Linked DNA regions of Homo sapiens: region 1 is linked to region 2. The links come from fine-mapping of genetic effects on plasma protein levels. A gene starts in region 2. The other region holds a variant in brackets. All regions are shown on one strand. Distances are between the middles of the regions. Region 1 holds the start of BMNCR (bone marrow associated non-coding RNA). Region 2 holds the start of PRELP (proline and arginine rich end leucine rich repeat protein).

The links. PIP is the chance, under the fine-mapping model, that this variant and not a neighbour inherited with it causes the effect. The UK Biobank Pharma Proteomics Project read protein levels with antibody pairs (Olink). The fine-mapping took linkage between variants from a reference panel, not from the people measured, so its PIPs are less certain.
Region 1: its variant is fine-mapped to the plasma level of the PRELP protein (UK Biobank, PIP above 0.99).

Annotation. Positions count from the first base shown.
Region 1 is chr1:203,394,321-203,410,852 of GRCh38, forward strand. It overlaps BMNCR (bone marrow associated non-coding RNA), which reads right to left and starts at 13,305. Exons shown (of 3, transcript XR_001738390.3): 1 at 12,211-13,305; 2 at 11,465-11,532; 3 at 10,413-11,057. LOC102723529 (a long non-coding RNA gene) reads left to right here. Exons shown (of 7, transcript XR_922438.3): 6 at 1,673-3,603; 7 at 4,155-5,772. It also overlaps the pseudogene LARP7P1. RefSeq lists a silencer at 15,847-16,047. The variant G/A (reference allele first, on the strand shown) is at 8,541.
Region 2 is chr1:203,467,530-203,484,061 of GRCh38, forward strand. It overlaps PRELP (proline and arginine rich end leucine rich repeat protein), which reads left to right and starts at 8,277. Exons shown (of 3, transcript NM_002725.4): 1 at 8,277-8,409; 2 at 15,640-16,532. The coding sequence starts at 15,656.

The DNA of each region.
Region 1 (16,532 bases), 73 kb before region 2:
TTTTTTCTTATATTTCTATCAGATTTTCCTTCATGTATTTTGAAGCTATGGTATTAGGTGCATAAATATTTTTGGATTATTACATTATGTTGAAGAATTGACACCTTTATCGTCATGAAATGATGCTAATTATTCCTAGTGATATCTCTTGTTCTGAAATCTACTTTGTCTGATATTAGCATAGTCATTACAACTTTCCTTTGATTAGTATTAGCATGGTATATCATTTCTATCCTTTTATTTTTAATCTGCCTTTGCTTTTATTTTATTTATTTAGGAGTTGAAGATCTCACTATGTTGCTCAGACTGGCCTTGAACTCCTGGGCTTAAGGGATCCTCCTGCCTCAGCCTCCTGAGTAGCAGAGACTGCAGGCTCGAGCCACTGTACCTAGTTTTGTCTTTGCCTTTATATGTAACTTGGGTATCTTAGAGACAGAAAATAATTGGGTCTTGCTTTTTTAAAAAAAAGTCCTGTCGGCCAGGTGTGGTGGCTCATGCCTGTAATCCTAACACTTTGGGAGTCCAGGGCGGGCAGATCACTTGAGGTCAGGAGTTGAAGACCAGCCTGACAAACATGGTGAAACCCCATCTCTACTAAAAATACAAAAAATTAGCCGGATATGGTGGCACACACCTGTAATCCCAGCTACTCGGGAGGCTGAGACAGGAGGATCACTGGAACCTGGGAGGCGGAGGTTGCAGTGGGCTGAGCTCTCACCACTGCACTCCAGCCTGGGAGACAGAGGGAGACTCCATCTCAAAAAAAAAAAAGTCCAATCTGACAATCTGTGCCTTTTGATTAGAGTGTTAATACTAACTACATTTTATGTGATTATTAATACAGTTGGGCTTAAATCTATTATCCTGTTAATTGTTTCCTGTTTGTTCCATCTTTTCTTAATTCCCTTTTTCCTTTTTTGTGTCTTCTTATTGGTTAATCATTTCTATGATTCTACTTTATCTTCTTTATTAGCATATTAGCAATACCTCCTTGTTTCATTTTTTTCATTTGTTGCTTTAGAGTTTATACTACACACCTTTAATTTATATAGTCTACTTTCAAGTAATATTTTACCACTTCGTGTAAAATATAAGCCCCTTACAACAGTATATTTCTATTTCTGCTCTCCCAGATTTTATGCTATTGTTGCCCTACATTTTGTTTCTATATATGTTGTAAACCTCACAATGTATTACTATTATTTTTGCTTTAAACAATAAATTATCCCTTTTAGATATTTCAATTTAACTTTTTTTATATTTATCTACATATTTACCATTTCCAGAAATTTCTTTTATTTTTTGGTATAAATCCAAATGTCCATTTGGCATCATTTTCCTTTTGTGCAAAAAAACCTTCCTTTAACGCTTCTTAAAATTCTGCTGTTGATTTTCTCTCATTGCTTTTGGACATTCTCTTTAACACTAGTTCTTAAAATTCAATTATGATGTGTCTTGATATAGTTTTCTTCATGTTTTTTTTTCCTGCTTGGGGGTTCATTGAGCTTCTTAGATCTGCAGGTTTATCGTTTTGTCACATTCAGAAAAGTTTTAATCATTCTTTCTTTAAATATTTTTTCTGCTCCCTCTTCTGGACTCTGATGGCACGTATATTAGGCAATCTGATGTTGTTCCTCAGCTTACTGACGCTTTGTTGGTTTCTTTTTTCCAGACTTCTTCTCGGCGCTGCATTTTGAATTGTTTCTACTAGTGTATCTTGAAGTTTACTAAGCTTTTCTTCTGGAGTGTCTAAGATGCTGTTCATCTCGGCCAGTATTTTTTCATCTGTAGAATTTAATTCAGTCTTTTTTTATGTTCTCCATATCTCTCCTTAACATGCTCATACATTCTTCTACCTTTGTGAACACATGGAGTATATTATCACTTTTTAATATTCTGCTCCGCATAATTCTAGCATCTGTATCATTTCTGTTTCAGTCAATTTATTTTTCTTCTTATTCTGGGTCATATTTTCTTTTTGTTTTGTTTTGTTTTGTTTTCAGAAAGAGTCTCGCTCTGTCGCCCAGGTTGGAGTGCAGTGGCACGATCTCGGCTCACTGAAACCTCCGTCTCCCGGGTTCAAGCGATTCTCCTACCTCAGCGTTCCGAGTAGCTGGGACTACAGGTGCGCACCGCCACGCCCGGCTAATTTTTGTATTTTTTTGTAGAGACGGGGTTTTGCCATGTTGCCCAGGCTTGTCTCGAATTCCTGAGCTCAAGCAGTTCGCCCGCTTTGGCCCCTCAAAGTGTTGGGACTACAGGTGTAAGCCACTGTGCCCGGCCCTGGGTCGTATTTTCCTGCCTCTTTGTATGCCTGTTAAGGTTTGATTGGATGCCAGATGTGGCTGGAAAGGTCACTCATGATTAGTTACTTCTACTAATTCTCTGACTTCATCTTCTAATCTCCACCCCTCCCAGGTCTCTGATTTTGCCACCCTGAACTTCTTGCACACTTCCTCGTTCATTTGCACATGCTGTCCCCTTTCTCTGGGGCACTCTTCCCTAGGCGGTCCCCATGGGTTTCTCCCTAACTTCATTTGGGTCTGTGTTCAAATGTCACATTACCAAAAACATTCTATCACCTTTCCTTGCTTTATTTGCCTTTAAACATTTATAACCACTTGCCAGCCATGTTACTTACTGATTGTCTATTTTTACCTCACCGCCCACCTCTGCTAAAATGTACCATGACAGCATCACCGAGAACTACTGCCATCAGCTATATAATGAAACTATTTTTAAGCAACAACAACAGCAGCAGAGAAGAGGGACCAACAGGGTCCAATGCATCAGAGGGGTCCAAACTGGTAAGCACTGAAAAATATCTATTGAATCGGACAATTAGGAGGACTAACCTCCTCAAGAGTAAGTTCCTGCAGTTTGCTGGATAAAGGGCATCAGAGCGCCGTGGGTTGGGTTGAGGACATCTTCTCCCTTACAGCCTCCTGGTTCTTCTCTCAGAAAAACTTCTCCTCCTTCCCAGCTCAATCCTATTTATTTATTTTAAAATTTATTGTGTATATTTAAGGTATACAACATGCTGTTATAGGATACACATAGTTAGTAAAATATTTACTATAGCAAAGCAAATGAACATCTCTGTCGTCTCCGCACAGTTACCCATTTTTGTTGCTTTTGTGGCAAGAGCAGCTACAATCTAGTCATTTAGTAGGAATCCCAAGTACAGTGCGATTTTATGACCTACAACCATCATGGTGTACATTAGATCTCTCCACACACCTGTTACATTGTATCCTCTGACCTACGTCTTCCCATTTCTTCCTCCCATTCCTCCCCAGCCTGCTTCCACCCCAGTAACTGCTGTTTTATTATCTGCGTCTGCACATTTGATTTTGTTTTTAGATTCCACATGTAAGTGACATCATGCACTATTTTTTTTTCCTGTCTGACGCATTTCACTCAGCATAGTGTCTTCCAGGTTAATCCATGTTGTGCCAAACGACAGGACCTTCTTTTTAAAGGCTGAATAATATTCCATTGTATACAGATGCCACAGTTTTTTAAATCCATTCCTCCATCGACACTTGGGTGGTTCCATATCTTGACTATTGTGAAGAATGCTGCGTGAAAATAGAAGTGCAGGTATTTTAAAAAGGTGGTTATTTCATTTTGGGGGGATATAGTCACAGAACAGAGATTGCTGGGTCTTCTGGTAGTTCTGTTTTTAATTTCTTTAGAAACCTCCATACTGTTTTCCATGATGGCTGCACCAAATCTACATTCCCACCAACAGTGTACAAGTGTTCCCTTTTCCCCACACCCCTATGACTTTTTGATAATAGCCATCCTATAGGGTCTAAAATAATATCTCATAGTGGTTTTGATTCACATTTTCCTGATGATTAATGATGTCAAGGACCTTTTCATATATCTGTTGGCCATTTTTATGTCTTCTTCGGAGAAATGTCTATTCAGGTCCTTTGCCCATTTTAAAATTAGTTTATTTGTTTTTCTATAATTGATTTGTATGTGTACTTTATAAATGTTGGATATTAACCCCTTATCGGATATATGGTTTGCAAAAATTTTTTCCCAGTCCATAAGTTGCTATTTTGTTTTGTTGATTGTTTCCTTTGTTGTGCAGAATCTTTTTAATTTGATGTAGCCCCATTTATTTATTTTTGCTTTTGTAGCCTGAGCTTTTGCTGCGATCTCCAAAAAATCATTGCCAGTTGGATGTGGTGGCTCACACTTATAATCCCAGCACTTTGGGATGTGAGGTGGGAGGATCACTTGAGTCCAGAGGTTCGAGACCAGCCTGGGCAACATAAGGAGATGCTGTCTCTACCAAAAAGGAAAAAGAAAATGAAAAAAATCATTGCCAAGGCAACTGTCCAGGAACTTTTCCTCCATGTTTTCTTCTAGGAGTTTTATAGTTTCAGATCTTGCATTTAGGTTTTTTTAAAAAAATCTATTTTGAGTTGATTTTTGTGTATGGTGTCAGATAAGGGTCTAGTGTCATTCTTTTGCATGTGGAAATCCAGTTTTCCTGGCATCATTTATTGAGAAGACCATCCTTGCCCCATTTTGTCCTCTTGGAGCCCTTGACAAAAATGAGTTGACCATATATGTTTGAAATTATTTCTAGGCTGTCTCTTCTGTTCCGTTGGCCTATATGTCTTTTTTTCTGTCAGTACCATACTGTTTTGTTTACTATGGTTTTGAAATATATAGTAATTTTTCACTATATTTTTAAATTTTTAACTTTTACTATATTTTAAAGTAATTGTTAAATCAAGAAATGTAACGCTTCAGAATGCCTTCAGGATGGCTAATCATTAACAGTTTTCTTTCAGAAACTGTAAGAATTTAACACAAAAAGTAGTTTGGAAGCACACATTAAGGAGTTACCGGAAGAAGTTTCTTTTCCTAAATGTGCCTATAGGACCAGATACAAATCCAGCCCTGAATAATAAATGGAAGATTTCTATTTGTATTTCTTTCTTAGAATTGTTTTGGCTATTTGGGGTCTTTTGTGGTTCTGTATGAATTGTAGGAATTTTTTTTTTCTATTTCCATGAAGAATGTCATTGGGATTTTGATAAGAATTGTGTCAAGTCTGTATATTGCTTTGGATAATAGGGACATTTTAACAATATTAATTCTTCTGATCCATGAGCACAGAATATCTTTCCATTTGTTTATATCTTTTTTAGTTTTTTTATTGATGCTTTATACTTTTCAATGTACAGATCTTTCATCTCCTTGATTATTTCTCCCAAGTATTTTATTTTATTTTATTTTATTTTATTTTATTTTTGATGATATCACAAATAAGATTGTGTTTGTTATTTCTTTTTCAGCTAGGTCATTATTTGTGTATAAAAATGCTACTAATTGGGGCCAGGCGTGGTGGCTCATGCCTGTAATCCCAGCACTTTGGGATGCCGAGGTGGGTGGATCACCTGAGGTCAGGAGTTCAAGACCGGCCTGGCCAACATGCTGAAACACCATCTCTACCAAAAAATACAAAAATTAGCCAGGCGTGGTGGTGCATGCCTGTAATCTCAGCTATTTGGGAGGCTGAGACAAGAGAATTGCATGAACCCGAGAAGCGGAGGTTCCAGTGAGCTGAGATTGCACCACTGCACTCCAGCCTGGACGACAGAGTAAGACTCTGTCTCAAAAAACAAACAAACAAACAAAAAAGCTATTGATTTTTAAAAAATGTTCGAAACACATTTATTTTCTAAATCACCTGAAGTTGACTTATATAAGATAATTTCAACAAATAAAATGTTCAATGAAAAATTGTGGTATGCAACGTACTTATGTCATTACAAGTTGAGGAACAAAGATATTTTTTAAATTAACTGTAGGTTTTAGGGAAACATTTATTATACAGTACTACCAAAATAAAAGTGGATCCCTAAGAACAGCTCAAATACCCAGTGAAGTATTAAGAGGTTAACTATAATTTGTTTTCAGTCATATTCAGAAAATTTAATGTGTTTACTTGCTTGTTGAGTCTTTACAAGTTTAATCTTTTTGGCTTTGGTGATTAACTTTTAGTACCTCTTTCTTTTCCCTAGCTGATTAAGTTTGGCCTACCTATCAACAAAAATCTGCCAGTATCTTTGTGATCACCAGAAAAGCCCTTGAGTTTCCAGCGGTATTTCTTTTTAATTTCTGTAAGTGCACTTATTATTGCTTGAGATCCTCAGGAGTTTTGAATCTAGCCTGGCATTCTGTATCTCTTTCTAGCAAATCAACATAAACAACTCCTGAGATTGCTCCAAAGTATTGCATACAAAAGCACTTACAACTTTAAAAATGGGTAAAAATCAACCAGGCATGGTGGCTCACACCTGTAATCCCAGCACTTTGGGAGGCCGAGGTGGGTGATCACTTGAGGTCAGAAGTTTGAGACCAGCCTGGGAAACATGGTGAAACCCCATCTCTACTAAAATACAAAAGTTAGCTGGGCGAGGTGGCGCACACCTGTAGTCCCAGCTACTCAGGAGGCTGAGGCAGGAGAATCACTTGAACCTGGGAGGCAGAGGTTGCGGTGAGCTGAGATCACACCACTGCACTCCAGCCTGGGTGAGAGAGCAAGACTTGGTCTCAAAAAAAAAAAAAGGGTAAAAATCGTTGTGTGTGTGTGTTTGTTGTGTTTTGTTTTGTTATAGTCACACCTGTGTATCAAACACTTCCCCTGGGGCATTTCAGTCCTTGCCCTCTAGCAGGGCACAGTGTGATGGAGGAGGGTTCAGAGAGCTCCCAGCCAGATGGGATGTGCTTGAGCGTGTATGTGTGTGCATAGAAATAAAGATCATCAAAAAGACAACAAACGTAAAAAAGCAATACAGGAACACATTTAGTGAGCACATGCTACGGGGATGCTGGAGAGAAGAGGCCAACTCAGGGACGGAAGGCAGGGACACCCTCTCTGGCTCTGGAGCACTGGGACTGACAGTTGCGACATCCATAATTCATAGCCCATCAATCTTGGAGGGTCCTGTGCTCTGACCCTTTTAAAAATGACCCTCTTCTCTGATAGCTGAGCCCTCCTTGGAGGCCCAGGGCAGAAAGGTTTCTCTGCAAGACATCCTCTGGTGCCCAGCATGATGGATGAGGAGGCCAGAGCTGCTCAGGGCAGCTGAGGCCAGTGGGGCTGAGTGGGGAGATAAATATAGCAGCAAATCCAGCTCTGTGTATAGAGAGTGCGGAAGGCCAAAGGGCAGTGCCCTGGGTAGCATTGAACATGTAAGAGGTGACTTAACAAGCGCAGCTCGTGAAGGAAACAGGGAAGGAGCAGTCAGAGAAAGGTGGAGAAAACAAGCAGTGTAATGCATCATGGAAGCCAAAAGGGAAGACAGCTTCACCAGGACAGCGGAGACGCCAGCGGTGCCTGCAGAGTCCTCCAGAGAGGCCCCTGCCATGGAGGGTGGAAACGTGCCTCGTGAATTTGATCAGTAAGAGGTCCTTGGGGAGCCTGGGGAGAGCAGTATCAATGAAAGGTGGAGGCAAAAACCAGGTTTCCATGGGCTGAGCAACAAATAGAAAGTGAAGAAGGGATACTAGGAGTCAGATTGTCAGATTTAGCAAATAAAAATACAGGATGTTCACTTAAATTTCAATTTATCTGACATTTGAATTTCAGATAAACAATGAATAAATTTTTAGTATAATAAGTATGTCCCAAATATTGCATGGGACATACATAAACTGAAATAATTATTTGTCATTTATCTGAAATTAAAGTTCAAGTGGGCATCATGTATTTTATGTGGCGGTTCTAACAGGTTAGCGTGTGGACTTCTCTCCCAAACAACTTGTCTGGGAAGAAGAGCTGATTGCTAGAGCCATAGCTAGAAAGGGACCCCAGTCAATGGAAAGTTGTATTTAGGATGGGATCATCTAAGCGTGTAGCCCAGGCAGCACTTTCTGTAGCCTGTTTGTAGGCCGAAGAGAAAGAAGGAGAGGCTAAAGACACAGTTGGGAGAATGCTAGATTATTGAAACCATGGGCCTCTAATCAGGACCAGCAATCATTTCACTGGATCCACCCATAAAAAGCAGAAAGTCCCTCCCCAACACTCCATTCCACTAAAAGCTCAGAAAAATGCAAATTTCCAACATTGATTTGCAAGTGTATTCCCGCTCCTGCAAACTGCAGGATTGTGGATTTCATACAAACTCTATCCAGTAGATTTTTGTTTCTTTTGTTCTTTTGTTCTTTTTCTTGGTGTTTTAATGGACCACCATAGCTGAAAATATTTTGCTAAATAGAGCAATCCACTTTGCCAACTTCAGCATTTCTTAAAATTCTGTCACCAGATAGAACCATTTTTAATAGCTAGATTCCATAACCAGTTCAGGCCTCAAGCCTAGGTCTTTTAAAGCGAATGAATCAGATTAGTGCTGAAATCGAGCTCCTCCTTCCTCTTTTTCTATTTTTACTCTTACTGCTAATGGCGAAGTTATCAAAGCCTCTTTTGATGATGAAATAATTGTATCATTGAATCATCACATGACTGAGTCAACAGCTGTTTTTCTTCCTCATCACACCAGTTTCCA[G/A]GGTCACATCTGGCTTGAGAAACTTGAAGTCTGGTGTCCTTTTGTTTATTTTTGTTCCTTTTCCTCTAATTCCTTAGATTTCTGCCAGATTGGGAGCCTTCATTAGTGTTTTGTTTCTGTGTTCGTGAGACAGAAAGGCAGACAATGGTTTTTTTCCCCTTTCCACAAATGCTAACTTGAAGTCTTGTTTTGTTTTCATTCACTTTTGAGGCAGAGTCCAGCCCACCAAGTCGAATTCTTTGCTCAGTTTTAGGCATGTAGACCCCACAGCAGAAGCAGTGCTGTGGCTTCCGCTGTCCTTCCTAAGAATGTCCCTGGCTGCTAACTGTTTGGATGTTCCCCTCCTTCACTAGGGACTTTGAGACTGTTAATAAGAAAAAAATAACAACATTGGGCTACACCAATTTCCCTTCTCTCAAATTGCTTGTTCTATGTTAGTTTCAAAACAAGAGTTTGCCACCTTGGTTTTAAAGAGAGCACTAATGGACTGCCCCCAGTGCTACCTGTTCTGTTTCTAATCTGCTCCAGGATCCGACAGAATCCATATAAGGTAGAGGACAATTGCTTTGAACAGACATCCTCAAGATAGTTCATAATTTTGCCTTTGGTTTTCTCATTTGTAGCACTCAGGATAGAGCTTGGTCTTCTTTGGTGCCTGAGATTTAGGATTGGGCAGGAGGAGGTTATGTTTGGGATCTGCTTTCAAGTAAAATATCTCTACCAACTAATGAGTAATTTAAGATTCTCTCTCTATATGGTACTTATCCCAAGAGGTAGACAAGTACAGACGGGGTGTAGCTAAAGCTGGGGCCATGGCGGGACAGGAAAGTTTCTTTATGGGTCAAAATACTTGCAGTGTTAAACAGGCATGTTACCAAAACAGGTTCCCTCAGGGTGATGGCTCTTCGTCTGCTAGGCTGACCAGGGGGCCCAGATGGTGTGCCTGATATCTGGGAGGACGTCTCCAAGAATGTGTGACTTAAGTCACCTCACCTGGAGGTTGAAGGCCTTACATTATTTAAGCCAGAAAGGACTTCGAAGACCCTGTAGCCTCAGGGCTCCCAGACTTAATTTCATGGTCTATTACAAGTTGGAAGTAAAATACTGTAAAAAGTAACTGGTTGTCGATAAGTTTTATTTTGCCAGTTGAGCAAATAAAATACTCACCTTCTGTCATCATTTCAGAAAAGTACCTTTTAATGTAAAAAATATGGAAGACTTATTCTCTCACTCTTAACATAAAGGATATATATCCCTGTCCTTCCCCAGAAAGTCAGTATTAAACTTACACTAACAGTACACAAATATACTGTATTATATGTCTGTGTGTATCAATATGCATGCACATCATCATCCTCCTCCTTACTTTTTCCTTATCACATGGGTAGCTGTAATGTAGTGATTTAGTACGTGGACTCTGGGACCAGGATACCTGAGTTCAAATCCAGGCTCTACCACTTACCATATGAAGACCTTCAGGTAAGTTACTTAACCTCTCTGAGCCTTGGTTTTATCATCTATCATGTGAAGGTGTTAATAAGAATACATACTTTTCCAGGTGGTTATGAGATTAAATGAGTTAATATATGAAAACCACTTCACACAAAGGAAATACCCAGTAATTCATAGCCATTGTTATATTATTTTGCCACAGACTAGTGAAATCTTTATAAATTGGTATCTGGGAACCACTGACAAAGCACTCCTTTCCTTTTCCATATAAGGAACAACTTAAGTCTAGAGTGGGCATGATTTGTCCAACTCAGGTCATGGCCAGTCAGTGACTGGCATGGGCATAGAACTCAAGTCTGCTGACCAAGTCCAATGCATCTCTGAGGTTTCCTGGAAAAAAAAAAGTCAGTTAGGCAAATGACTGGAGGGTAGGATGGGAATCAGTGAACATGGGCTGAGTGTGTGCATAGAGAGGGGCGGGGAGCCAGCACTTGAGCAGAGCACACTAACCAGTTTGGGAACCCCAGGGAAGTCTGGCCATTGCTGTCTCCTTTCTCTTTCCTCCAACCTCAGAGAAAATGAATATAGGAGCAGGTGACAGCCTGGGGTTGGGGGTCGAGGGAGTCTGCACGTGGGATGGAGTAGGTCGGTAGCAATGCACTTCTACCTCTTCCTCCTTCAGCCTTCAGTCCACCCATAGAACATACGGCTGAATCTCCAAAGTCCTACCTCTTACGACTCTGCTGGTACAGTCTGTTGGATGGAGGTCCTGCCCCTCCCAGGCACCAATCACCAGAGCAACCAAGGCTGGAAATAATGCTCAACCCTTCCACTCATTTTTGCTGCTGTGGTTTGGGGACCATTCTCCATTTCCTAAGCAGACACAGCCTTGGTGAGGACCATGGGATCAGGTAGGATTGCACTCAGTGGCTGGTAACAGAATCCATGGGACTATGGCTTCTTTTTCACTCCCCATAGCAGGAAATCAGGGTGTCCAGGGCAGGCTCCTTTAGTCCCTCTGTTCCATCATCCTTCACATATGACTTTCATCCTCATGACCACCTCCTGATCACATGTTCCAGGCAGGACGGAGACAAAAGAAAATGACAAAAAGCAAGGGTTGGGTACATATCAGGAAATCCAGACTTTCCCCTAAACCTTCCAGGGGCTCCTGCTACTGGAAGCTACTCCTAGCTGCAAGGGAGCAAAGGAAAGGTCATCTTTTGTCTGGGTAACAAATTGTGGTTTTATTAAGTAAGGAAGGAGAGAATTGATATTGGATAAGAAACATTTACTCCCAGGAAGATACAAATTGGAGCCTTTTCATTTCCTTTCCTCCAAAGTTGATTTCAGCGGGATCACAGTCCAAGGAAGCATTAGCCCAGCTCCAGAAGCCTTAATGTCTGTATGGCCTTTGCTGAAACCCAGAACTCACATACAGTGGATCAGGCAGCACACAGCACCCTGCATACCTTTTTTTACAAGTCTCCTTACACTTTCCTCTGACTCCTCTCAGTGGCGCTTCCAACCTCCCTCTCTCCTGCAAAGCAAAACAAAACAAAACAAGAGAGGCCAACTGGCAGCCTGTGCTGCCCTCTCTGCACAGCCTCCCATCTCTCTGACATCTTCCCTGTTACCACGTTTTTCCCTTTGTCTTCTCTGTGCACTTTCTTGTGGAAATGGGTTTGGTCTCTGGGTTGTTACAAATCTAGGCCTCCACCCCTTAGCCCCATAAGCACAACCAAGGCTGAAAATGATGAATCTGGGAGATTATGACACAACCTGTGAACTATACTGTGATATTTCCCCCCGGCTACCCAGGTTACCAGCAAGCCAGTGTAAACTTAAGCGCTGCTTCTACAACATCTGCAGACACCAGTCAGGGTGGGTCAGCTGTGCTTTGCTCCAGCCCTGGAGACCTGCCCCATCCCCGCTCAGCCTCCTGCTCTTCTTGTTCTTATGTTGTCTGAACTCCCCACTTTGATACTCATCCTACTGGCTTCAGCCAAATAATTCCCATCTGCTCCTTCAGAGGCCCACTTAGGATGGTCTGTTTGGGGAGGTTCTCTCAATTCACCTCACTGGCCCCAAGCCAGTCTGCTGTGCTACTCTGATAGGTCAGCCCTTGGTTTATATTATTTGTATTTGTACTTGGTATTCCGATTTTGAGCTGCATTCTTTATATCTGTTCTGTCTCCACTATTAGGCTGGGACCAACCTGAGTGCAAAGTCTGGGTCTCCTGTCAACCCCTCGGGACAAGGGTTACTTTTTTTTTCCCAGCTGATGTTTCTTGGGTACCTTCCATGTGTCAGATGCTGAGGTTGGTGCTCAGGACATGAGACAGACCCAGCCCCTGTTCTCCCTCAGGACTTGCTTCTCCTGGTCCTGTCTGTGCCCCCAGGACAGCACTCTGCCTGACACATCGGGACAACTGACCACTGTCTGGACAGAGATGAGGAAGAGGATAGGGATTCAGCCCTTGGAGATGAGCCCCATCACTCTCTTCCTGGATTCCAAGTTCATACCACTCTGGCGGCTCCTCTGAAAATCCCCAGGCCTCCTCCCAGTCTCCCGGCATCCGGTGTTGCTGTTGGCCGGGCCTGCCTGCCACACAGCCAGGGACTGAAGGACATTTTATTCCAAATGAGGGCAGTCAGCTGAATTTCCAAACCAAAGATTTTTCCACTTCAAATTTTCTCCTTTCCTCTTCTGCCCAAATAACACATTTGTTTTGTAGAAAAGGGACAGAGCAGTTCTATATCTAAGGGTTAAAGACTTTATGGGGATACCTGGGGGATAGGCAGGGCTGTGGCCAAAGTCCTTATCCTGTTGGGAGGAGAGGGAAAAGAAAGGAACTGAGAAGGGCCTTCCAGTCCCCAGGAAGACAAAGGGGATAAGATCAAATCAAGGGATGCCTTTTTTCTTTCCGACCCTATACTGCACTCTCCTTCTTCTTCCATCTCCTTTTCCTGTTTTTTATTTCCTCTTCCTCTCTTCCTTCCCACTATCTTCTTCTCTCTCTTCCTCTCCTTCCTCTTCCTCCATGCATTCATTCATTCATGCATTCTCCCAGCAGACATTTATTCAGCATCTACTATGTGTCAGACACTGCCGCAAGCTAAGAATACAGAGACAACTAAGTCAAGGCTCAGAGTTCTTATAGTCCAGAGGTTGAGGAGGGTGGGGCAGACAGATGACAGGCTGGGGTGAGGAGCTACAACTGGCAAGGAGAGGTACTGGTAAATCTCCAAGTACATTCAGAAGCTCATGCAGTACATTTAGAACAAGGGAAACTCTGGGAATCAAGGAAAACTTTTTAAAAAACTTAAAACTTAAAATTTTTAAAAATAAGTATTTATTTATGTATTTCTTATTATTACTATTATTATTTTTTGAGACAGGGTCTCACTCTGTTGCTCAGGCTGGAGTGCAGTGGTGTGATCATAGTTCACTGCAGCCTCAACCTCCTGGGCTCAAGCAATCCTCCCACCTCAGCCTCCCAAGTAGCTGGGACCATGGAAGTGCATGACCATGCCCGGCTAATTTTTTTTTTTTTTTTTTTTAAGAGACAGGGTCTCTCTGTATTGCCTAGAGTGGCATTTTTTAAATAGACTTTTTTTTTTTTAGAGCAGTTTTATGTTTACATCAAAATTGAGTAGAAAGTACAGAGTTCCCCATGTATCCCCTGCCCCTCACACACACAGCCTCCCCAACTATCAACATCCCCCACAGGAACAGTCATTTGCTAAACCCGATGAACCTACATTTTAACATCATTATCACCCAAAGTCCAGAGTTCACATTAAGGTTCACTCTTGGTGTTGTACATTCTATGAGTTTGGACAAATGTATAATGAATTGTATCCACCTTTATAGGATCATGCGGAGTAGTTTAACTACCTAAACATCCTCTATGCTTTGCCTCACTTAATCTTTCAATCTTCAATTTCTTCTTCTTTGAAATGGGAAATATAACAATTATCTCATAGAGTGATCATGAGGATAAAACAAAATAATATATATGAATATTCTGCTTTAAGTGTGGGTTATTTATATAATATCACAGGGAAAAACCAAGAGAACTCACATAGTTGTCCCTGATTGTGGTATGTGCTACGGGAGAAAGGAGAGAAGCAGATAGGAAAGGATGAACTTTCGCCCAAGCATCAGGGAGACGCTGCTGCATGAGGTTTGGGCTGCAGGCGACACTGGGAGTAGTAGTAGGAGGAGGGCACGGAGGCCCACGGAATTCTAACAGGGACTCTGGACTGTTCCCTGCTCCTGAAGTAGCCCATCCCAACTTTATCCAGGCAGTCCTCTGGCTGCTGCTGGCAGGGGCTCAGAGAGCCTGTGTGAGTCACATCCACGTGGCTGATGTGGGGAGGGAAGAAGGGATGGGGAGGGCTCATGCCCGCGCAGGGCCACGCTGGCTTGGAGAAATGGTTCCTGAAAGTCCCTGGCAGAAAGTGGGCTGCTGTGGGCTGTTAATGTGCCATGCAAATCAACCAGTAAACAGTCCCCAATGAGAATCCCAGATGTCTGTTCACTCCAAAGCACAAGACACTCATTTTGGGCTCCAGGTGGGGACCAGCTCAAGTGAACCCTGCCCATGAGCTGAGGCAGGACTGCTGGTCTCTCTGTCTTCCTGCCTCTGGACGGGGACCTTGTTCCTGGAGACCTCATTGTCCTCCTACACTGAGACAGGCAGTGTCTACACAGGGAGAAGGCGACCGGCAGTACAGATGACATCAACATATCACCTTTCATTCAGGATGGGAAAAATCATTCTGGGGTCTGCTTAGGCTGTCTAGGCAGAACAAAAGAGCTGCACCATAGTGCTAGAGACAGGATGAACCATATGGTATGCTTGTGGGGTACCCCAAATTTCCACCTGAGTTGGGTCTGTTGCCAGGCAGAGGCACAGCTGGGTTTGGGGGGATGCCAGGTGCTTGCTGTATATATGCTCAGAATGCGTTGGCTTGTGGGGAGGATAGCTAGAGAGGGAGAGGTGGAATGAAGCACATCTGGTGACCCGATTTTTTGTTTTCTTGTTCTTAGTTAAGAGCCTCAGCTATTCTTGGGGCTGGAGGAAGAAGACAAGGAAACAGGCAGGGGCAGGAGAAGGAGAAAATGGGGCAGGTAGTGTATGTTACTTGGGGAGGCTCAGAGAGGGAGTGCTGTTTTGATCCCGGGAAGGCCTCTACTTCTCATGGAGTGCGAAGGGGCTTGGTGTTCCTAGGTGAGGAAGAAAAGTATGGTCACATGACCATTTAGCAGCCTCTCCCACAGGGACTCAACATGCAGTCATATCAATATATCATTCCAAAAGCAGCACATAAACACATATACCTTCAAGGATAATTGCAAGCACAGGGTTTAATTATACAGACAATGAAAGCCCACACTTCTTAGAGACACACTGCCACTGAAACACACACAGCCCTGCTCATAAAGACTAGAAGTGGTCACATTGACCCTTCAGGTCAGGGCAAATGTGCCTTGAACCAGCATCACCCTTTGGAGTTTGCAAAGTCTAATGTCCATCTCAAGTTTTCCACAAACTTCTGGAGGGTGCTCCTGCTTCTGATGAATTGTTCGATCCAGGGTCCTCTGGCCATTCCTGGTGACTGTCCCTGTTCCACACCACCACCATCCAGGTGGAGAACATGGCAGAAATACTTGCAAGGCTTCTGTGATGTGGAAAACTTAGGAAGCTTTGAAGAAATGAAGAGCTTTACATCATAGCAATAACACTAAACACTAAATAATACTAAACAACAGACATTTCTGGTATGACTTTTTAAAAATCCATTGATCATTTTCATAACTCAGGGTGCAGACTCTTTGCATGTTATTCAGCTAATCCCCTTCCCCCTCTTCATTGTTGTCTTCTTCTTAGGGGCAAAATCCGAATTCCTCTCATTTCTTACGTGGAACAACTTTCTCCAATCTCTGCTGCCAAACGTGGCTCGTGAACTCCCTTAGCATAGCCAAAAACTCACTGGAAGCTCTGAAAATAGCCCTGGTGACTTGCTGATTAAGCTCCTAGAGCAGAGGCTATCTGCCTTCCCCATCTTCCTGTACTAAGGGCAGTTTTTATTTTTCTAGCTAAATGTAAATATGCAAATATACACTTGGACACAGAACTCTCGATCCACTTCCCCAAATAGGTTAGACAGGAAGAATTCATCTATGCCATGTTCAGGGCAGTTAGCTAAATCTAAAATTGCCTCCCTCCCTCAACTTCCTACTCTCTACTTTCAGGGTTCCCGGGGCTCTTTTTACAACAGATTTATAAAGTCAACATCATTGAGAGCCTGCCCTATGCCAAGCATTCTTCTTGGGAGATACAAAGATGATAAAACAAGACCACGGAACTCAAGGAGCTCAAATCCTAGATGGAGTGGCAGATAAGTAAACATGGAATCATGATGTAATAAGATGAAGTCTATGATAGGGAAGGTAAAATGTGCTATTGGAACACAGAGAAGAGCAGTTGAACCAGCTTGGGGCTGGGAGTGTGAGGAGGATGTGCAGGA
Region 2 (16,532 bases):
CAAGGCATTTGAATTTTATTCTATAAATACCTGAGAGACATTGCAAAATTTTAAGCAAGGGAATTACATGATCAGGTTTGTGTTTGAGGAAATAACACACTTGTTCGGTCATGGAAAACAGATTAGAAGATGAGAAGCCTTCAGGAAAAAAATAAAAACAGGAGGATTTTGCAATTATTCAGACAAACACGCTAAGAGGAGAAAGTGTTCTAGCGCTTCTCGGCTCACTGCCCGATTCCTGCTGGGGCCAGAGTGCAGGATCCTGAGCGCCTACTCTGTGTTAGAACCATGTAGGTCTTGGGACTCCAAGTAGGAATCCGGTTTGGCACAGGCCCATGGGAGCTTGTGGATAAGGCAGACAGGAGAGCAGAGAAGGGCGAGGAAGTGGCACGGTTCCTGGGAGGGCCATCCACTGGGGGACTGCTGCAGCAAACGGAGAGACCAGGGGTCAAAGAGGAGAGTGCTGTCGGGAGAGCATCCTAGAAGATGTAACACCTGGGGGGGTGAAGGGCTTTCTTTTTTTCTTTTTTCTTTATTTCTTTCTTTCTTTTTTTTTTTTTTTTTTGAGATGGAGTCTTACTGTGTCACCCAGGCTGGAGTGCAATGGTGTGGTCTCAGCTCACTGCAACCTCCACCTCCCGGGTTCAAGCCATTCTCCCGTCTCAGCCTCCCGAATAGCTGGGACTACAGGCACATGCCACCACACCCTGCTAATTTTTGTATTTTTAGTAGAGACAGGGTTTCACTATGTTGATCACGCTGGTCTCAAACTCCTGACCTCGTGATCCACCCGCCTCGGCCTCCCAAAGTGCTGGGATTACAGGTATAAGTGAAGAAGGGCTTTCTACATGGAAGGAGCAGTGGGCAAAGGCATGCAGAGGTGAAATCTCTTGGAGTACTCTGGCTGCTGTGAGACAGTCACATGCTTGGAGTCTAGACTTTGAGAAACAGGGCTGGAAAGGTAAGCAGGAGACAGACCATGGAGCTTGGACTGCATTCTACAGGTCTAATTATCAGCAAAGGGCACAGATCAGAATCATTCTTGATGACAGCCTGGAAAACGCACATGTATTTGAACCAGCATCTCTAGGGCTGGGGCCTCAGGCACTTTCAGGAACACTTAGGTGAATCTAACATGTGCTGTGGGCCAAGAACAATGGTCATGGGGACAGGGAACCATGCAAGGTGACCTGAGGAAGAGTCAGGTGGAGGGTGGAGGGCAGGGAGACCCATCAGGACACCGTAGCAGTGGGCCAGGGTCTAGAAGAAAACAGTGCCATGACAGGAGAGAGGGGGCCAGCTGTCAGGCCATCGAGGAAATAGAACTGACTGGACTTGGAGAGTCCAGGGCGTGGGGAGCAGGGTGAAGGGAACAGTTGAAAGCAACTCTGTCTTTTAAGAAGGAGTAACTGAAACCTAGATCAGTGGTTCTTAACAGTTTTAAGTGCAAAGATTTCTTTTCAACTTAAAAAAGAAGTATGTGATGATAGTTGGACTTGTATGAATACATAATGACACAAAGCTACATGAATTTAAAGATGATTTTAAATAATCTGCATTTTATTCATCACAACAGTATACATACACACAAACAAGAACATCATAGGAAGACGACCTGGGTTCAAATCTTATCTCTGCCATTACTAGATTTGTGACCTTTGGAATGTAAACTGTCTGTGCCTCAGTCTCTCACCTGTTAAATGAGTATTATAGAAGTCCCTGCCTCATTGAGCTAAGAAGGGTGGGCTAAGAAGGGTGCTTTGCCTATAATAATTCTCAAGAGGCTTTATTATTGTTACTGTTATTCAATTTAGAGACGTTGCTTGGTGCACAAATGGATGTGGGGACCCCCAAGGTCATGTGTGGGGGTCCCTGGCAGGGCTGCCTTGCTCCTGCCCTCCTAGACCTTGTAATATGTGGCATAACTGACCACACATGTCCACAGACTGGCCATCGTCGCAGGATGCAGTGGGACTGTGCCTGTATGAGGCAGTGTCATTACCCAATAGTCTATTACGTGGAGCAGGATGGCATTTGGAAGCTTGCTCAGGATGATACCTGGAACCTGGATATTCGATCCAGGTGCTTGTGACTTGCTGTGACTTGTGACTTTTACAACATAAAATTAAATTAGGCTGGGTTTCAGGATGATGTGATTGGGAGATCCCAGAACCTAGGAGGACCTCACCTTGGAAGGCAAAATGCCATCACCACTCACTCGAGCCTGGCTTCTGGGAGACCTAGGGAAGCCCAGAGCAGTGCTTACTGAGCAGCCCCAGGCTAGTGCTGTCTGCTAACACCAGCTGACGGTGTAGCCTTTGCACTTAGGCCTAAAAGCCATGTCTATAGCATTCGTGTATCAGCACCCTCTTTCCCACCAGGTGTCAACAGCCCTCTCTCTGTAGGACTCTCTGTAGGACTGCTCAGATGGTCCACAAGCTGACAACCCCTCAACAGGATCACGGACAATTTGCACAGAGGGATTTAGGGGTTCTCCAGTCCGGCTGTGCTCACTGTGTGGTCGACAGATAAGTTTTATTTCTTCCTCCGCTGCCTTTGCCCTGTCCCTTCCTCTCATCGAAACAAGCAGATCAGATCTGTGGGGAGGCAGGAAGCAGAAGCCGCCCGCATGTGCCTTTGGCTTCATTTTCCATAAGCCTAGGTTCTTGGGGGCTTCTGGGCATAGACACAGTGTCTTGGCCAGAAGAAAGGGGAACATGGAAACTTCTTTCCCCAGAAAATAAAAGGGCCCCTGGCTTTAATGTGCATGTAAAAGGAGTTGAGCTGGAGGAGAATGAGAGCCCTGAGAGAGGGAATCGGGGAGCCTGCCCCTGGCAGAGTGCCAGGCAGCCAGCATGTTTCCAGAGAGGAAAGTTCCTGCAGAAAGTTCTTGTCCCCTACATGTAGCCTAGGAAATGTCAGAGGGCTGCTCGGCCAGAAGGGGCCTGGTGGGATGGAGGGTGTGCCCCACAGCAGCATCAGCCAGGAGCCATGTACGTCCCCTCCCCACAGACACCCTCCATCCCCGTTGGAGCTGCCACTGCATAAACCTGCCTCAAGCTGCTGGGTGGCCCCCCACGGGTACCAAGGACTGAGATGGAGTATTTCACGATCCTGGTGAAATGAGCACTTGGATCCAGAAATTAGAGAAGTGAAATGATAGGATAAAGTTGTGTTTCTGTCACTACTGAGCTGATGGACTGCCTTGAATACCTGAGACATAAAAGGAGAAAACTGAGGCTCAGGAAGGGCTGCGTAGCCCAAGGCCGCCCCGTTAGCATGGAGAGGAGGCAGAGCCAGGCCTGCAACCAAGTTTGTGAGACTCCAACTCCAGCACTGCCTACCTTAAAAATGAGGAGGTCTCCATCCTGGCTAACATGGTGAAACCCCGTCTCTACTAAAAAATACAAAAAATTAGCCAGGCGTGGTGGCGGGCGCCTGTAGTCCCAGCTACTTGGGAGGCTAAGCCGGAGAATGGCGTGAATCCAGGAGGCGGAGCTCGAAGTGAGCCAAGATTGTGCCACTGCACTCTAGCCTGGGCGACAGAGTGAGACTCCATCTCAAAAAAAAAAAAAAAAAAAAAAAAATGAGGAGCCCAGGCCGGTGAGGTGGCTCACTCCTGTAATCCCAGCACTTTGGGAGGCCAAGGGAGGAAGATTACCTGAGGTCAGGAGTTCGAGGCCAAGACCAGCCTGGTCAACATGGTGAAGCCCCTTCTCTACTAAAAATACAAAAATTAGCCGGGTTTGGTGGCGGGCACCTGTAATCCCAGCTACTCGGGAGGCTGAGACAGGAGAATCACTTGAACCCTGGAGACAGAGATTGCAGTGAGCCGAGATTGCACCATTGCACACCAGCCTGGCGACAAGAGGGAGACTCTGTCACAAAAAAAAAAAAAAAAAAAAAAAAGAGGAGCCCAAATGTTCACCAAGAGAGACTGTCAACTAAATAAATATTGGGGGGTGGGGGCAGAGAAAGAATCACCAAAAGGACCAATATGATCATCTTCAAAAGATACCTGTACCACTAAGTGAAAATAAAAGTGCATAGCTGCTTATTTGTTACTAGTGTGTACCTTAAATAAATCTGTGAGGACACAAGAAACTGGCGCACGGTCCTCTGGGGGAAAGTGAGTGATGAGGGGATAGGCAAGGGAAAAGACTTTTTCCCTATGCAAGCTCTTATACCTCTTAGATTTTCAATCAAGAGAATGTATTACCTATTCAAAAAATAATAACCTTTTTTTAAAAAAAGAGGGTGACAGAGAATCTCCTTGTTCAACCCTCTTAAATTCAATGAAACAGACCCCTACTGAGCACCCAGGGTGTGCCAAGCCGTTGGTGGGTGCTGTGGGTTATACCATGATGAACAGGATGCTGTCTCTGCCCAGCAGGGGCCCACTCACCCCAGGCAACCCAGGCCCCCCAGGCTGGAGGGTGGGACAGGCTGCCACAGGACTCACACAGCTTCTCCCCCGTTATGCATTTGCCCAGACCCCACCCACCCTGGACTGGGAGCCTCAACTAGTACAGGGTGAGGGTCCGTCCAGGGCCAGCCTCTGTGGGTCCTGATGACCACTGAGCAGTTTGAGCCAAACTCTTCGGGCCCACACTGCTCCTTCCCGGCAAAGTCTCAGGACCACCACGGGGGAGGTGGGAAGCTTGAGTACCTCCCTCCTGTACTTCTATGGAAAGAGTATTACACAATTGTGTCCTTTCTTCTCTTGCTTTAAGCACTCACTGCTTGTAACCAAGGCAGCAATTACTGTGAGGGTCAAAGAAATGGTAAGCCCCCCAGATGGATTTCGGTCTGGATGGGAAGTGTGGGCAGGTCCCAACTCTGCAAATGCAGCTGAAACCCACCAACTTGGAGAGCCCCCTCCCTCTGCTGCCTGGCCCTCCCTGCATTCTGTCTCCTAACCATGCTGCCCCTAGCCCTCTCCTAGGACCAGGCAGCAGTAGCAGCAACAATGTGCATATCTGGACTTCTCACCATATGCCCCAGCATTCACATCATGTGCCTGTGACTGTTCTCTGGCTACACCAGCAAGAGATAAATACCTCCCCTGGGTTGAAGACACACCACTGGTGTCCCTGAGACTCTAGGAGAGTAGAGGAGGCTCTTCCTGGAGGATCCACATAGTCCCAGGGTGCATGAAGCCAGTGAATCACAAAATACTCCCCTGCCATTGCTGCCAATGATCCTTGTGTTATCTTGGGTATACCCTGGGAGGGAGATGGGGCAGATGAGAAAACCAAGGCTCGTGTGCTGAGACCTACTCACCAGGTAGCTAGAGAACAGCAGAGTTGACATCTTAATCCAGGTTTCCTAACCCCAAACCTTATACTCTCTCTTCACAGTATTGTTGGAAGAGCACTGAGAGGTCATTTGGTACAACCTCGTGTTTTATAAATGGCAAACTGAGGTCAGAGAGGGAGAGAGACATCTTCAAGGTCACACAGCATGCAATGGGGCAAAGCCAGGTCCCAAGAACCTGGACCCCTGTCTACCAGGATGGCGACTGTGTTGAACTGGGAAGTGCTTGTCCTGACTAAAGGTGTTCAAATCCTTTTTTTTTTTTTTAACCAATGCTTCAAAATATACCAGTAGGGTTTGTGGGAGTGGGGAACACAGAAGAAACAAGATTGGCCATGAGTCGGTAATTGTTGAAGCTAGGTATTAGATAATGGGGATATTAATACTATACTGTGTAAATATGTATACGTTTTAAAATTTCCACAAAACTTTTAAAAAATTAACGTGCTGTCAAAAAAAATTAGGTACTCAAGCCATATTAGGTCCACAAGCCACTGATTAGCAAACTCTATTCTGGACACTCCTGAATATCCTGCTGGCCATGTCTATACTTCTTTCCAATTCTCTCTGCATAGCGTGGGATGCGGGAGATAGGAGAGGGAGGAAGGGAGATAACTGGCTTAGGCAGGGCTTGGAAGTTGGCCATCCATTCCCGAGAGCATAGACTCTTGGGATTTGGATGGCTGTCATACAAATGGATACAGGTGACACCCCTGCCCCTGCCCATACTCCACACTCCTTCCAGTCTGTCTATCCCCACAGACACTCTACCCATCATCCCTGTACCTCACTGTACTTTGCTCACCTTATTATTTTTTGAGACAGGGTCTTGCTCTGTGACCCAGGCTGGAGGGCACTGGCGTAATCATAGCTCATTACAGCCTTGGTCTCCTGGCCTCAAATAATCCTCTCACCTCAGTCTCCTAAGTAGCTGGGACTTCAGGTACACACCACCACACCCAGCTAATTTTTAAATTATTTGTACAAACAGGGTCCCCCCATATGGCCCAGGCTGGTCTCGAACTCCTGGGCTCCATTAATCTTCTGCCTTCGTCTCCCATAGTGCTGGGATTACAGACATGAGTCTCCGTGCCCAGCCAGTCTTTTTTGCCCTCTATCATCTACCACCCACCATACCAAGGGAAACAAGCAAATCTGGCGTCTGATGTTCCCGGCCTGCAGAAGACGCCATATCCCATCTGGATGAGAAATGAAGCACATGAGCAGCCTGGCAGAGCCACAGTTAATGTGAACCTGGAGAGGAACCGTGCTGTCTTCCAGCAAGACCTCACCAGCAGGGCGTGAAGCCATGAGATCTGGGGTGGAAGGGGGTTGGAGAAAGGTCTGGGTTTTATTTTTCCTTCTCCTTTTCTTAGGCTAATTACCATTCATCGCAATCCCTTTCCTAAACCCTAATATCTTCCCAGTTTATAAAGTGCTCTCACATTTACAATATTTAATCTTCCCAACCCTGTGAGGTCAATATTATCCATATTTTGTAAATGAGGAAACTGAAGGTCCTCATGATCAAGTGATTCACCTAAGACCATAGCTTGTGGGTGGCTGAGCCCAGGGCTGCAGACCCTAATTTTAATGTTCTCTCCTCTACCCCATATTGCGGAGGGCAGGCAGGCAGTCCCCTGTCATGGGGCTCTGCAGCTCTCCATGGAACCAATAATGGAGAAGAAAATTGCGTTGCATTTTCTAAGTAGTCAGCTGGGATGGCAGGAATTTATTTATTTTATTTACTTATTTATTTTTTGAGACAGAGTCACGCTCTTGTTGCCCAGGCTGGAGTGCAGTGGCACGATCTTGGCTCACTGCAAGCTTTGCCTCCCAGGTTCAAGCAATTCTCCTGCCTCAGCCTCCCTAGTAGCTGGGACTACAGATGCCCGCCACCACACCCAGCTAATTTTTTTGTATTTTTAGTACAGACAGGGTTTCACCATGTTGGCCAGGTTGGCCTCAAACTCCTGACCTCAGGTGATCCGCCTGCCTCTGCCTCCCACAGTACTGGGATTACAGGCGTGAGCCACTGTGCCTGGCCATGGCAGGAAATTTTGATGGGCATCTACTTACCTGCAAGTGTGTTGTGCTTTCTTAATTGAGGGGCATTGTTAGAGGATTGTTAGAGGTAGTGGTGTTACTTGACTGGGTCTTCTGGGGTGTTGATGTGCACAGGGGAAATTTGGATTTCCCATCACTTTGTGTGATGACCACACAGCCCCTAAATCTCACCTAAGTGTGATATGGAGAAGCTGAAAGAAGCCACTACATTGTCCACATGAGCTAGGAACAGTGACTTTAGGTCTTACATTAAATCTTAATTCTGCCTTAACTTTGCTGTGCAACTCAGGCCAGACTTCTCCCTCTCTGGTTCTCAGAACAGCCCTGGCAGCCAAACCGAAGTTATCTCCTATGCCAGCCTGAGACTCCACTCCCTTTGCAACCTCCTGGAGAAGATAACTTAGGGAAAGACTGTCACTGCTCAGAGGAAGCATCCCAAACCCCTCACTGGTTTAGGAATTTAACACTACCGAGCAACGGCCCCAGAAGGCAAGGCGATTGTTAGGAGGAATTAAACAGGCTAGTGCTGGACCCAGCCATCCAGTCCTGGCTTACACAGAGGTTGCTTTTCATGCCTTTTCACTCTGTTAATTTGGCTTGTTTTCCAAACATGGGTCAAACAACCCCTCTCCAGAAGCGGCAGCAGCAGAAGGAAATGTTATTAAAAATGAGTCTGTTAGTGGGAATGGTGTGTGGATGAAGTCTTTGGGAGTTTTGGCTGCCAAATAAAGACTTTATTGTCATTCCTCCTTTCCCAAGCTCCCTCCCTCTCTCCTCCCCTCCCCTCCCTCCCTCCTCCCTCCTCTCCTCCCCTCCCTCCCTATGATCTGCCCCTCCCTCCCCCCAAGCTAACCTCCCCACCCCAATAGGATCTGGTGGAAGAAAAGTCAGGCAAACACAAGCACGCACACACCACTGGGAGATCAGATCTTCTAGCTGGCTCTCTGCTGCCACAGCTCCGCCGAAGGGAGGGGGTGGAAGAGGAGGACTAAACTCAGAGCTGAGAGGAGAGGCAGGTGTGTGCAGGTAAGCCCAGTTGGGAGATGGGCAGGAGACTGGGAAGAATCTTTCATCCAGTAAGTTTCCTCCAGCTCTGTCCATTTATTGATCTAGTCTCTATCCTCTCACTCCTTCCTTCCTCCCACCTCTTTCTCCTCTCAAATGAGTTCAAATTTAGTCTTCCTAACTTCTTTCCTATAGCCTCTTCCTTTTCTTTTCATCACTCTGTACCCCTATATTTGCTTACTGCAAAAGTTAAGCTTTCCTGCTGCAGATGTTTGTTGTAGCACAGAGAGCCACGCTGCACAAAGTGTTTCTACAGATCAGGTGTTTCCATAGAAACTGGACTCCAGAACCCATTTCTTTGCACCTTTTGTGTATTGTCACACATTGTGGAAGTCACACACATCACACGGAGGCTGCACGTTCACTACCATCACCCCACACGACCATACAAAATGAAGACATCCTGTCCATTCACCTCTGCCCTCTGCATCTGACATGCAGAGCTAGACCACATCATCACCAGACACCAGCAGACACACACACACATGCATGCACACATGTTCCCTGCATCTTGTCTCTCGCCCTCTCACACACACCTCCCTAGCTGTAAGAGCAAAGATAAAGTACGTTTTCCCACTGAGATGGCAGAGCCAGAAGAAAATCTTGCATCCCAAGTCCAGGCCGAATAGGGAGGAGATAAGCAAGAGCGGGAGCTGGAAGGGTTTCTTCATTATTTAGGGCTTCACTGGGTAGGAGGGAGAGAAAAACGGCTTTTTCCAACCTGCACAGTGTCTTCTCAGCAGCTTTCAATTTCTGTCTCACTGGTCCAAACCACTTGGCTTTTGGAAAGAAAGAAGAAAGCGACCCAGTTCCCAATCCTTGAAGGTCCTAATTCCCAGCTCTGGGGACAGTTCATTTTTTTATTTTTTTTTCCTGCAGGCAGCCAGAAAAATATTTTTCTTTAAAGCCGTTCTGAAATTATTCCAACCATTTAGGTTGGCAAAAGGTCCTGTGGCAGAGGAGAAAAAAAAAAAAAGGCAGCAGTTCCTTAAGCAGTTGGGGAGGGGAAAACTGAAGGGCGGCCCCTCTCCTGCTCCCCTGCTCATTCCTCTCTATTAATAGAGAGGGTCTGTCCCAAGGCAGGCGGGGTGTAGGGAGATCAGGGGTCCCACACACAGCTGATCTTCACAGTCACCTAAGGGCTGGAGAGGGAGGAGTGTGGAGGGCTTACTAAAAATACAGATGTCGGCTCTCACTGCAGATCTACTGAATCGAGACCCAGGAATCTTGTTTTAATACTTCAGGAGATTCTGATGGTCCACCAGGGCTCGAGAATCAGGGGCCTGAGAGAGAGCTTTGCTGTAATTTTTAAGCCCAAGACTCCGGCAGTGTTAGCTGGGCAGAAGGACTGTGTCCTGGAAAAGGAGCACCAGAGTGTCCCAAATAGGCCACCTCTTTTTTGGGGAGTGGGAGTAAACAGGGAAGAGCTGTCTCCCTCTCTCCTCCTTGCAAGCACAAGCAGCCATATATACCACAGAGGAACATTCCAGTAAGAAAGTTCCCCCAAGATGGCTCCACAGAGCTTCTGTTTCCCCTCACCTGTTAATCTGCCTGCCCCAGGACCCCAGGAGCATGTGCTGGGCCCTTCCCCTGACCCTTATAGGTCCCTGCTCCTCCTTCCCAGCAGCCACCTGTCTGGGCTCTCACAGAGGGTGAGCTGAACACTTTCTTCATGCCCCCTCCACCTCCCTAGTGGGCAATCCCATTTATTGGGCATGTGAGTGAAGCATTTCAAGGCTGGAAGGGGCAAAAAGCTGGGAGAAGTCAAGAATCGCAGTGGAACTCCATGGCCCACTGAGGAAGGCAGACTTGCACCTTCTGTGGCCAGTGTCCCCTCACCTGTTGCAGAAAGCATCGGTGAGAAGTTGGTGAATTAGAAAGACAGAACAAGCTTTCCCTAGGTGGCTGGGGACTTCCAGAGTCTCCTCAGTTAGTTGTTTCTGAGACCCAAGTGTGATCTCACAAGCCACAAAGGGGAGGAAGTTGCTCTGTGTGGAAGAGCTGGTACCCCACTCACAAGGATCCCTGCCTTCGAGCAGTGCATGGGGGCTGCCCTCTAGCCAGGCTGGAGGGAAGGAGACCCCATTACTTTGAAATAATATCAACAAGACCTTAACATTCAGAAAACACTCACTTTGCATGTATTAACTCATTTAACCCTCAAAACAGAAAAGAAGGTGTTAGTATCCCCATTTTATAGAGCAGAAAAGCAATTGCTTTGCCTAAGCCTACCTAGCTAAGCATCTGAATGAAGAACTGCAGGATTGGGTCTCAGATCTATAATCACTCAAGGCATCAGACACACTCTTCTAGGCTTTCTTCAAGGCTTGGAGATGCTGGGGGAATGGGGCAGAGGATATGGTAGGTGGCGGGCTGTCAGAGAAGAGTCGTCTCACCCTGGTTTCTTCCCCACCGCTCAGAATGGAAAACTTTCTCTTCTAAACTAGTGGCCTGAGGCCAGAAAATCTTCATTCTGTTTACACTTTGCCTTGTGGTAGACACTGGGGAGACAGATGGTCTCTCCATAATAGTGTTATTTTTATTTTTAGCACTTTTTGATCTGTAGTGCATTTTAAAGCTGCTAACTGCACTTGCTTCTGACAATTGGGTAAGGAATATAGGTATAGGGAAGATTTTTTTATTCCCATTTTACAGATAAGAAAACTGAGGCCCAGAACAGGGTTCGCATCACTAGGTAGTGGTGGAGGGGTGAGAATCTTCTCTCCTAACTAGTATGCACCACAGGCTCTCCTCCCACTGCCCCAGGCAAGCTCATCCTTGTATCGTTTCACCTTCCTAGAAAGGGGCATCTTGAAGTCATCATGCCCCCATAAGGCTCCTTTGTTATCTCAGGACCACATCAGCCCTAATGGGGGCCTTGAAAGGGCCTCAGGCTCACTCCTCTACTAACTCTGCTCATAAATTGGCAAAGACTGCTTGATTCTCCCTGCTTCCAACACCCTTCTGGACTACAGGAAGAGATACAGAGAGCAGGATGGCTTTCAGACACCTAGGTTGAGAACAGAAAGAAGGGAAAAAAGAGAGAGGGGTGTTCCGACATTCACCGGCACAGCGCTAGGTCAGAAGCAGCCCCATTCTCCACTGCAGGGTAGCTCTGGGTCAAGGCATGGAGGCTTAGGGGTGACCAATTAGACAGGAGATCTGACAAGTAAGAAGAATGCCAGTTCAGAGTGCGGCGTAACCCTGCTGCTAGCCCTGCCTAGCCCTGGGAGACAAACCCAACCTCATTCCCAGCCCAACCTCAACCTCTCCATACAAAGCCAATTAGCCTTAAATAGCTGCTCCTAATGACTTGACCAACCCATCAGGACTTCCACCCAACCCTGCCCTGAGCAGAAACATTCCACCACTCCTGGGTTTTAACATTAAATTAATGAGAGAGATAGGGAAGGGGGCTATCTCACTTTAAAAATCAAGGAGTCCTTGGGGCGCTGTGGCTCATGCCTGTAATCCCAGCACTTTGGGAGACTGAGGAGGACAGATCACTTGAGCTCAGGGGTTGGAGACCAGCCTGGGCAACATGGTAAAACCCCATCTCTACAAAAAAGACAAAAATTAGCCAGCTGTGGTAGCACATGCCTATAGTACTAGCTGCTCAGGACGCTGAGATGGAAGGATCACCTGAGCCCAGGGAGGTTAAGGCTGCAGTGAGCTGTGATTGCACTACTGCACTCTAGCCTGGTCAACAAAGGGAGACCCTGTATCACCAAAAAAAAAAAAAAAAAAAAAAAAAAAAAATCAAGGAGTCTCTCTAGAGAATCTGCTGTTTATAAACAAATAAATGAGTAAGTAAGCCTCTGCCACTTGCAGAGATTTTGCACTTTATAACATGCCTTCAAATGCATGATCTCATTTGATCCTCACACAGATGAGGAGCCCGGGTTGGAGAGTCAGAGCCAGGAGTCAAGCCCAGATCCACAATAGTTGGAATTGAAATTAGAATTTAAAACTCTCTTAGAGGCTGGGTGCAGTGGCTCACACCTGTAATCTCAGCAATTTGAAAGGCCGAGGTGGGAGGATTGCTTGAGCTTAGGAGTTCAAGACCAGCCTGAGCAATACAGTGAGACCCCCATCTCATTTTTGTTTAAAGTGAAAAAAGAAAAAAAAATTAAGATTCTCTTAGGAAACGTTCTTTAATGTGGAGAGTGAATGTTGGGTTGGGCAAAGCAATTGCCTTTCTCTTCCGTGAAGCAGCAGCTTTTCCAGAACTGATGGTGGAGAGCAGAACTGCATGCAGTTGGCTGTTGTAGGTGGTCAACAAACCTTCACTGATTGAGCAATGAGCAGAGCCCAGTAGAAAGCTGTGGGTGGAGAAGTGCACTTGTGAAAGCATAAGAAAAATTTAAAAACACACACATGGACCCATCCTAAGGAATCTTATGATTGGACAGAAGTTTCTAGAAGGCAGGAGCATAGAGTGTGGGTCTGAGGCTTTGTAGGAGGGACTATGACTACCCATGGAGTCCAGGTACCCTCAGTCTGTCACACAGATTCTGGTTTCAGAGACCTAGGACATCACGGAGCACTGCCAGAGAGAATGGCTGTGCTGTCAGCTGTCAGAACTTTTCATCCTGCCTCATGGCAAAGCTCCGGCAGGAAGGGGCATCACCCCATGAGAAAAGCCTTAGAAATGAATGCTATTTCCTTAAGAGAGAAGCATCCCTGCACTTGGAATGGTTCTGATTCAGCCCTGGGGCTGAGGGAAGGGGAGGAGAGCAGGCTCAGCTTCCCCACATAACTTGCTCCTGGGAGCATTTCCTGGGGAACCTCCTGTTGGCTCTGGGAGCAGCTTGGCTAGGCCCAGAGGTTTGGAATGTAAACGGGTCAGAGGACTAGTGAAAAGATAAGTTCCCAAAGGGTCTGGTGCTGCACATGGGGATGAGGAAGGCCTGTGTTTACTGTGGATGAGAAGGCGCGCACAGCCAGCCTGCTGGGTGGAGCTGTGAGTAACCTGCCTGTTCCTCTCACCCCTGACAATGAAGACCAGGGCTGCCCTGGCACTGAGCCAAGGAAACCCCGCCCCGCCCAGCACAGGTCACAGCCACAGTGCCTCACTGCTTTTGCTGGAAGCCCTGGGCAAATTGGTGCCCAGTCCCTGGCATATGCTTTCGGTGACAAAGGCAATGAAGGGATATAGAAAAACTCCCGCCAGTGCTGGGAGCCTCCTTGGGACAGGGCTTCTCACAGTATGAAAGATTTCTAGATCATTTCTAGGCTTCTGGGTGATTAGAAAATAAATTTTTTTTTTTAAATCAGGGTCACAAAAATTGAGGCTTTTAGAAATGTTTGTTTTAGAATACCAATGCTTTAACTACCCCCTTAATTTATATGCAAGATGACTGTTCTGTTTTCCAGAAAATTACAGAACTTACACAATGTTAATTCATAGTTCACCAATTACAAGTGAAGTGGGGTTCAGCCAACAAGACTCAAGCTTAAAGTTTTGCAATTAATGCCTTCTCTTTTTAACCCTTGCAATGTATCTCTGACAATGTTATATCCTTAACGGGAGATCAAGCCAAAAACCTAACTGCAAGGTCCTTTGTGATAGGAGGCCAGGGAAAATGGCCTTCCAGACCTCCTTGGAGAGGCCTGCCTTGGAAGAGACCACCTTAGAGGGAGGTGGAGAAAGACAGTCTCTGCCTTCCTTCCCTTCCGCCTTCCTTCTTTCCTTCCAATACTCAGTGTACTGCGTATGGGCTCATATACGCACACAGAGGATAAGTGAGTGAGTTTGCTTATGTGCATGGGACCTGAAGAGGTGTGTGTGTGAGTGTGCAGACTGGATCTGCTGTTAAACAGCATCTTGGCCTTGGCGAGCCACTTCTTCCTTCCAGTCCTCAGTTTTTGCAAATGGTGGGGTCTGGAGTTGATTGGTGGATTTCAAGCCATTTTTAGCAAAGAAACGTGTCCCCTGCCCCTCAACAAATGAATGCTTCGGCTAAACCTCAATATATATAATAGGTTTTTTTAAAGAGAGCTGCTGAGGTTGGCACAGGGATGGGTTGAGGGTACCCCAGGGCCATCTCCTCAGTCTCCTCCCCACAGGGGTATGTCACAGAAATGAAAGCAGAGTTGGAAAACCACTAGGTTATAGGATCTTTAAGGACCTTTCTGGATTTAACCAGGACGCTAAGGTTCATACATCCTAACATCCCTCTCATGAAGACACTGATGATTTTCTCATGCTGTGAATGGGAGGACTGAGGGCCAGAGTGGTTAAGGGTCTTCTCTGACAAGCCCCAGGACTCCTGACTCGGAGTCCAGTGTGCTTTCTTTCTTTCTTTTTTTTTTTTTGAGAAAGAGTTTTGCTCTTGTTGCCCAGGCTGGAGTGCATTGGTGCAATCTCGGCTCACTGCAACCTCCTCCTCCTGGGTTCAAGCGATTCTCCTGCCTCAGCCTCCCAAGTAGCTGAGATTACAGGTGTCCAACACCACACCCTGCTAATTTTTTGTATTTAGTAGAGATGGGGTTTCTCCATGTTGGTCAGGCTGATCTCGAACTCCTGACCTGAAGTGATCCACCCGCCTTGGCCTCCCAAAGTGCTGGGATTACAGGCTTGTATGCCACTGTCCCACCAGCCCCAATGTGCCTTTTTTTTTTTTTTTTTTTTTTTTGAGATGGAGTCTCACTCTGTCACCCAGGCTGGAGTGCAGTGGTGCAATCTCGGCTCACTGCAAACTCCGCCTCCCGGGTTCACGCCATTCTCCTGCCTCAGCCTCCCAAGTAGCTGGGATTACAGGCACCCGCCACCACGCCTGGCTAATTTTTTGTATTTTTAGTAGAGACAGGGTTTCACCGTGTTAGCCAGGATGGTCTCGATCTCCTGACCTCATGATCTGCCCACCTTGGCCTCCCAAAGTGCTGGATTACAGGTGTGAGCCACCGCACCTGGCCACCAATGTGCTTTCTACCAGCATGTCCCCCGCCCTCTTCAGAGCAGGCTCAACACATCGAGTGGCTAAGCCAATGGCCAGGGAATCCAGAGCCTCAAGCCCTTGTTATTCCCTTACCTGCTGGGTACAGGCAAACAAGGAGATGCTTCCACAGCTCCCTGAGCTCTGCCCATCTTCCCTAGAGCTCTAGTTCTGCCCAACTCTGGCTTCAAAAACATGACAACTAGTTACTGAGGGCCCAAGGATAATGACCTTATGTGTCTTCTCCCTGCAGGTGCATCACCTGGATCATGAGGTCACCCCTCTGCTGGCTCCTCCCACTTCTCATCTTGGCCTCAGTGGCCCAAGGCCAGCCAACAAGACGACCAAGACCCGGGACTGGGCCCGGGCGCAGACCCAGGCCCAGGCCCAGGCCCACACCCAGCTTTCCTCAGCCTGATGAACCAGCAGAGCCAACAGACCTGCCTCCTCCCCTCCCTCCAGGCCCTCCATCTATCTTCCCTGACTGTCCCCGCGAATGCTACTGCCCCCCTGATTTCCCATCTGCCCTCTACTGTGATAGCCGCAACCTGCGAAAGGTCCCTGTCATCCCGCCCCGCATCCATTACCTCTATCTCCAGAACAACTTCATCACTGAGCTCCCGGTGGAGTCCTTCCAGAATGCCACAGGCCTGCGATGGATTAACCTGGACAACAACCGAATCCGCAAGATAGACCAGAGGGTGCTGGAGAAACTGCCCGGCCTGGTGTTCCTCTACATGGAGAAGAACCAGTTGGAAGAGGTCCCCTCGGCCCTGCCCCGGAACCTGGAGCAGCTGAGGCTGAGCCAGAACCACATCTCCAGAATCCCGCCTGGTGTCTTCAGCAAGCTGGAGAACCTGCTGCTCCTGGATCTCCAGCACAACAGGCTGAGCGACGGCGTCTTCAAGCCCGACACCTTCCATGGCCTCAAGAACCTCATGCAGCTCAACCTGGCCCACAACATCCTGAGAAAGATGCCGCCCAGGGTCCCCACCGCCATTCACCAGCTCTACCTGGACAGTAACAAGATTGAGACCATCCCTAACGGATACTTCAAGAGCTTTCCCAATCTTGCCTTCATTCGGCTTAACTACAACAAGCTGACAGACAGGGGACTCCCCAAGAACTCCTTTAATATCTCCAACC